Linked DNA regions of Homo sapiens: region 2 is linked to region 1. Evidence: fine-mapped expression QTL. Tissue or cell type: whole blood. Region 1 holds a variant in brackets; the other region holds the start of a gene. All regions are shown on one strand. Distances are from middle to middle.

What was found. PIP is the estimated chance that this variant, and not a neighbour inherited with it, causes the effect.
Region 2: it holds the start of LCN10, and the variant in region 1 is fine-mapped to the expression of LCN10 in whole blood (TOPMed, PIP 0.91).

The regions. Positions count from the first base shown.
Region 1 is chr9:136,766,677-136,769,428 of GRCh38, reverse strand. It overlaps LOC107987143 (a long non-coding RNA gene), which reads left to right. Exons shown (of 3, transcript XR_001746981.2): 2 at 1,280-1,668; 3 at 1,755-2,752. Among named protein-coding and RNA genes, the nearest start is that of LCN15, 3.5 kb to the right of the region's middle. The variant G/C (reference allele first, on the strand shown) is at 1,281.
Region 2 is chr9:136,741,705-136,744,307 of GRCh38, reverse strand. LCN10 (lipocalin 10) reads left to right here and starts at 1,368. Exons shown (of 6, transcript NM_001001712.3): 1 at 1,368-1,521; 2 at 2,288-2,427. The coding sequence starts at 1,405. It overlaps LCN6 (lipocalin 6), which reads left to right. Exons shown (of 7, transcript NM_198946.3): 7 at 166-291. RefSeq lists a silencer at 1,864-1,963.

The DNA.
Region 1 (2,752 bases):
GCATGGGGGGGTGGCGGGGTGGCGGGGGGGGCAGTGCATGGGGTGGTGGCGGGGGGCAGTGCATGGAGGGGTGGCGGGGTGGCGGGGGGGCAGTGCATGGGGGGGTGGCGGGGGGCAGTGCATGGAGGGGTGGCGGGGTGGCGGGGGGGCAGTGCATGGAGGGGTGGCGGGGTGGCGGGGGGGGCAGTGCATGGGGGGGTGGCGGGGGGGGCAGTGCATGGGGGGGTGGCAGGGTGGCGGGGGGGGGCCGTGCATGGGGGTTGGGGTGGGAGGGGACTGAGCTCTGAGAAAGGACCCCAGTTCACTATGTCAAAAACGAAAAAAAGGCAAGGCGCAGTGGCTCACGCCTGTAATCCCGGCACTTTGGGAGGCCAAGGAGGGCAGATCACCTGAGGTCAGGAGTTTGAGACCAGCCTGACCAATATGGTGAAATCCTGTCTCTACTAAAAATGCAAAAAAAATTAGACGGGCATGGTGGCTACTGTTATCCCAGCTACATGGGAGGCTGAGGCAGGAGAATCGCTTGAACCCGGGAGGTGGAGATTGCAGTGAGCTGAGATTGCACCACTGCACTCCAGCCTGAGTGACAGAGTGAGACCCCGTCTTAAAAAACAAAACAAGGCCAGGCACGGTGGCTCATGCCTGTAATCCCAGCACTCTGGGAGGCTGAGGCAGGTGGATCACAAGGTCAGGAGATCGAGACCACCCTGGCTAACATGGTGAAACCCTGTCTCTACTAAAAATACAAAGAATTATCCGAGCATGGTGGTGGACGCCTGTGGTCCCAGCTACTCCGGAGGCTGAGGTGGGAGAATGGCGTGAACCCAGGAGGTGGAGCTTGCAGTGAGCCGAGATTGCGCCACTGCAGTCCGCAGTCCCGCCTGGGGCGACAGAGCGAGACTCCGTCTCAAAAAAAAAAAAAAAAAAAAAAAAAAAAAAGAAAAAAAAGAAAAAAGAAAAAAAGAAAAGAAAACGAAGAAAAACCACAAATAAATAAAAGTTGAGGTATGATGTATGCACAGCTGCATTCGCCCCTTTGAGGGCACAGTTGTGTGAGTTTAGACAAATGCAAATGTTCATGGAACCACTGCAAGTGCGACACAGCAGCTCTGGTGCCCACAAAGCTTCCTCGAGGTCCCTTGCGGTCAATCACTGCCCGCACCTCAGCCCTCAGAGCCACTGGGAAGCCCCCTGCCCTGTGGGCTCACCTGTCCTAGAACGTCGTATAAAAGGAGTCGCAGATCGCAGCCTTTTCCACCTGGCTTCTGTCCCTCTGCAGG[G/C]TGCACCTGGGATTCAGCCACCTTCGTTCCTTTTACTGCTGAGTGTCCATCACGTGCTGCTCATGCAGAAGTGCTCAAGTTCGCTGTAAACGTAGTTTTCATTTCTCCCGGGTGGAGACCTCCATAAGTAGGTAGGTTGGTGGAATGTTTCACTGCATGAGAGTCTGCCAGGAAGTTTTGCAGTGTGGTCCCGTCTTGTTCTTCCCGCAGAGGGTGATAGCTCTGCTGACTCCCAGCCCTCACAGGCTCTAGGGATTGAGCCTGTTTCTGTGGAACGCCTTCCATGGTCTGCGAGGTGCACAGAGGGGTCTCAAAAAGCTTCCAGGTTGCATCTTCCCATGGACTGATGCTGAGCGTGTTCTCATCTCCCATCCGGATGTTTTCTTTGGTGGAGTATCTTTTCAGATCTCTTGCCTTTTTATTTTTATTTGTTTATATATATATTTTGAGACGGAATTTTGCTCTTTCACTTAGGTTGGAGTGCAACGGCGCGATCTTGGCTCACTGCAACCTCCCCCCACCCACCTCACTTTGGGTTCAAGCGATTCTCCTGCCTCAGCCTCCCGAGTAGCTGGGACTACAGGCGCCCGCCACCATGCCCGGCTAATTTTTGTATTTTGAGAAGAGATAGGGTTTCACCATGTTGGCCAGGCTGGTCTCGAACTCCTGACCTCAGGTGATCCACCCGCCTCGGCCTCCCAAAATGCGAGGATCACAGGCGTGAGATGCCACACCTGGCCTCTTTTTATTTTTAATGGAGTGGCTTGTTTTCTTATTACTCAGTCTTGGGAGTTCCTCATGGATGCTGGATTTCAGTCTCGTCTCAGGTGTATGCGTTTTGTAGATGTTTTCTGTAGGGACCAGCCCCACAGGGTTGGTGAGTTTCTCCCTGTGTGCTGAGATGAGAGGGCATAGAAATAAGGACACAAGAAAAAGACATAAAAGAAAAGACAGCTGGGCCTGGGGACCACTACCACCAAGACGTGGAGACCGGTAGTGGCCCCGAATGTCTGGCTGTGCTGATATTTATTGGATACAAAGCAAAAGGGACAGGGTAAAGAGTGTGAGTCATCTCCAATGATAGGTAAGGTGACGTGAGTCACGTGTCCACCGGATGGGGGGCCCTTCCCTGTTTGGCAGCCAAGGCGGAGAGAGAGAGAGAGAGACAGCTTACATCATTATTTCTGCATATCAGAGACTTTTAGTACTTTCACTAATTGACTACTGCTATCTAGAAGGCAGAGCCAGGTGTACAGGATGGAACATGAAGGCGGACTACGAGCGTGACCACTGAAGCACAGCATCACAGGGAGACGGTTAGGCCTCTGGATAACTGCGGGCAGGTCTGACTGATGTCAGGCCCTCCACAGGAGGTGGAGGAGTAGAGTCCTCTCTAAGCTCCCCCGGGGAAAGGGAGACTCCCTTTCCCTGTCTGCTAAGTAGCAGGTGTTTTCCCTTGACACTGACGCTAC
Region 2 (2,603 bases), 25 kb after region 1:
TCTCTTGGGGGAAGGGGGTGGGGGAGGCCACCCTACGCACAGTGGGTGGGAGGACCCTCTGCCCAAGCCCACGGGGTTCATGGCTCCACTGTCTCTAAGGCAGCTGAGGGTGTGGAGGAGCCTCCATGGTGGGCTGGGCCCCCTCACACTCCTCTTGGTTTTCAGTGAGTGCTGCGTCCCCAGTAGGGATGGCGCCCACAGGGTCCTGTGACCTCGGCCAGTGTCCACCCACCTCGCTCAGCGGCTCCCGGGGCCCAGCACCAGCTCAGAATAAAGCGATTCCACAGCAAACCAAGGATGCTTTTGACTGGGGGCCAGCCGGGGAATTGCGGGGAGGATGGCGGGGGTCGTCACCAAGGGCCAAGCCACAGAACCATAGAGCCAGCTGCAAAGAAGACGCGTGCCCAACCCAGTCCCTTGCCAGAGCCCCTCTGGGTCTTCAGACACCCAAACTCAGGCCCGGGCTCAGAGGCGGGGGCTGGTCAGAGGACACAGCCTGGGAGGAAGCCAGCAGTGAGCTCCACCAGGACCGCAGCTGGGGTGCCAGAGGCTCCAAGGACTGCCCAGGACAAGAGAGAGGTGGCTGGTGGGGCTCAGAGCAGCCCCTGACTCCCCAGGCTCAGGCTTCTCTGGGCTGGGGTTGTGTCTCTTGCCTGGGCAGGGGCAGGGACCCCAGACACCTGAGCCTGCAGGTCCTCCTGTGTTCTGATGGGTGTGGGGGGCTGCGCTGCCTGCCGTCCTGGGAGAAGCACAGGCCATGGGGGTCTCGGGGCTGGATGGGGGGCTGGGGACTGTGTGAGGCTCATGCTGGAGTGAGGCGAGGTGCACACAGATGCCTTGACCTGCAAGGCTGGGCATGCACACGCATGCACATGTGAGCACACACCCACACATGCACACACACACATTCATGGGCACGGGCACACAGCCCCGGCCCGCCCTTCGGCACCTGCTCAGGTGCTTGGTGCCAGGCCCTCAAGAAGGTGGTGGGGGCTGTGTGTGTGGCTGCCGCGCAGAGCTCACCATGTCCACATCTGCCCCAGAAGGGCCACGACCAGCCCTTTGCCTGTCACCTGGGAGGTCTAGGATGAGGGCCAGGGCTTAATGAGTCTCAGGGGCACACACAGTGACCCCAGGCCGGGCACTGAGGGCAGGAGGGTCCTGGGGCCTCAGAGGGGCCTCTGTCTGCCAGGGCAGCCCAGGCCAGCAGTGACCACCAGGTGGGGCAGTGCCGGCTTCCCTGGAGTGTCTGGGGGTGGTCCCTGGGCGGGGAGAGGGTAGCAGAGCCCAAGGCCACACCTGTTGCCTCCCTCCGCTCCCTCCCCTCCCTCCTCTCCCGACACAGGCTGGCGGCTCCAGAGAGGTTTAAACACTGGCCTTGGCGGCTGAGGGAGGAGGGTGAAGATGAGGCAGGGGCTGCTGGTGCTGGCGCTGGTGCTGGTGCTGGTGCTAGTGCTGGCTGCAGGGTCCCAGGTGCAGGAGTGGTACCCCAGGGAGTCCCACGCCCTCAACTGGAACAAGGTGAGCCATGTGCCACTGGTCCCTGAGCCGGGCGCCGGCTCTGGAGCTGGAGCAGGCTCCTGCACAGTCTCCCGGCAGCCGCCCAGGAGCAGGGCTACCAGCAGTTCCAGGCACGGGCGCTGCCCACCTGGCCTCTCCCACTGCAGCCTCCAGCACAGGGGCCCCGCAAGTTGCAGGGCAAAGGCAGGGAGCCTCGAGGGGGTTCGGGGGCCCAGGGGGGTCAGGGAGGGCCAGGGTGGAGGGGCCCAGAGAGCTGTGGCCGAGGAGGTCGGGAGACGCCCAGAGTGCAGAGTGGGTGTGGAGCAAGCGGGGCATATTCTGTAGCGGGAGGGCCCGGGCACCTGCTGAGTGAGCCGTGGGAGCAGCACTCATTGGCACGGCGGTGCCCAGGGCGCTAGGGTTGGCAGCAGGCAGAGTTGGGGGCCGGGGGCCGGCAGGAAGGGAAGTGGCCGAGCAGTACCCAGCCCCCAGGAGGCCATGTGGGAAGGAGCCGGGGCCTCTGAGGTAGGGGGCCTCCCACCTGCTGGCGCCCACAGCCCAGCCCTTTGCTGCCTGGGGTCCCTGACCAGCCGGGCACCTGCTTCTCTGCAGCCCTGCTCCAGTGGCCAGGGCTTGAGTGGCCGGGACCGAGGCGGCACCTGGGCGGAGCTGGGACTCCGGCTCACAGAAGGGTCATTTGTCTCCTGGGTTCTCTAGCTGGGAACCTCGGGGGTGGGGACAGCCCCCGGTGGCAGCTCCTGTCCCCGCCCACACATCCGCTGCGCAGTTTTCAGGGTTCTGGTACATTCTGGCCACTGCCACTGATGCCCAGGGATTCTTGCCGGCCAGGGACAAGAGGAAGCTGGGGGCGTCCGTGGTAAAGGTGAACAAAGTGGGCCAGCTCCGCGTGCTCCTCGCCTTCAGACGGTGAGTGGGCAGCGCCCCCCAGGCAAGGGTCTCCCCTTCCAGGAGGAGGGAGCTGCCTCGGGGCTGGAAAGGAGTCTGGGAGGAGCCTGTCTGTCTGGAAGTTCCACAAGAACCGTCCCCCCACTTCCTCCCCCTAAACTCAGAGGAAGCCACCTGCAGCCCCTGGGACCCCACAT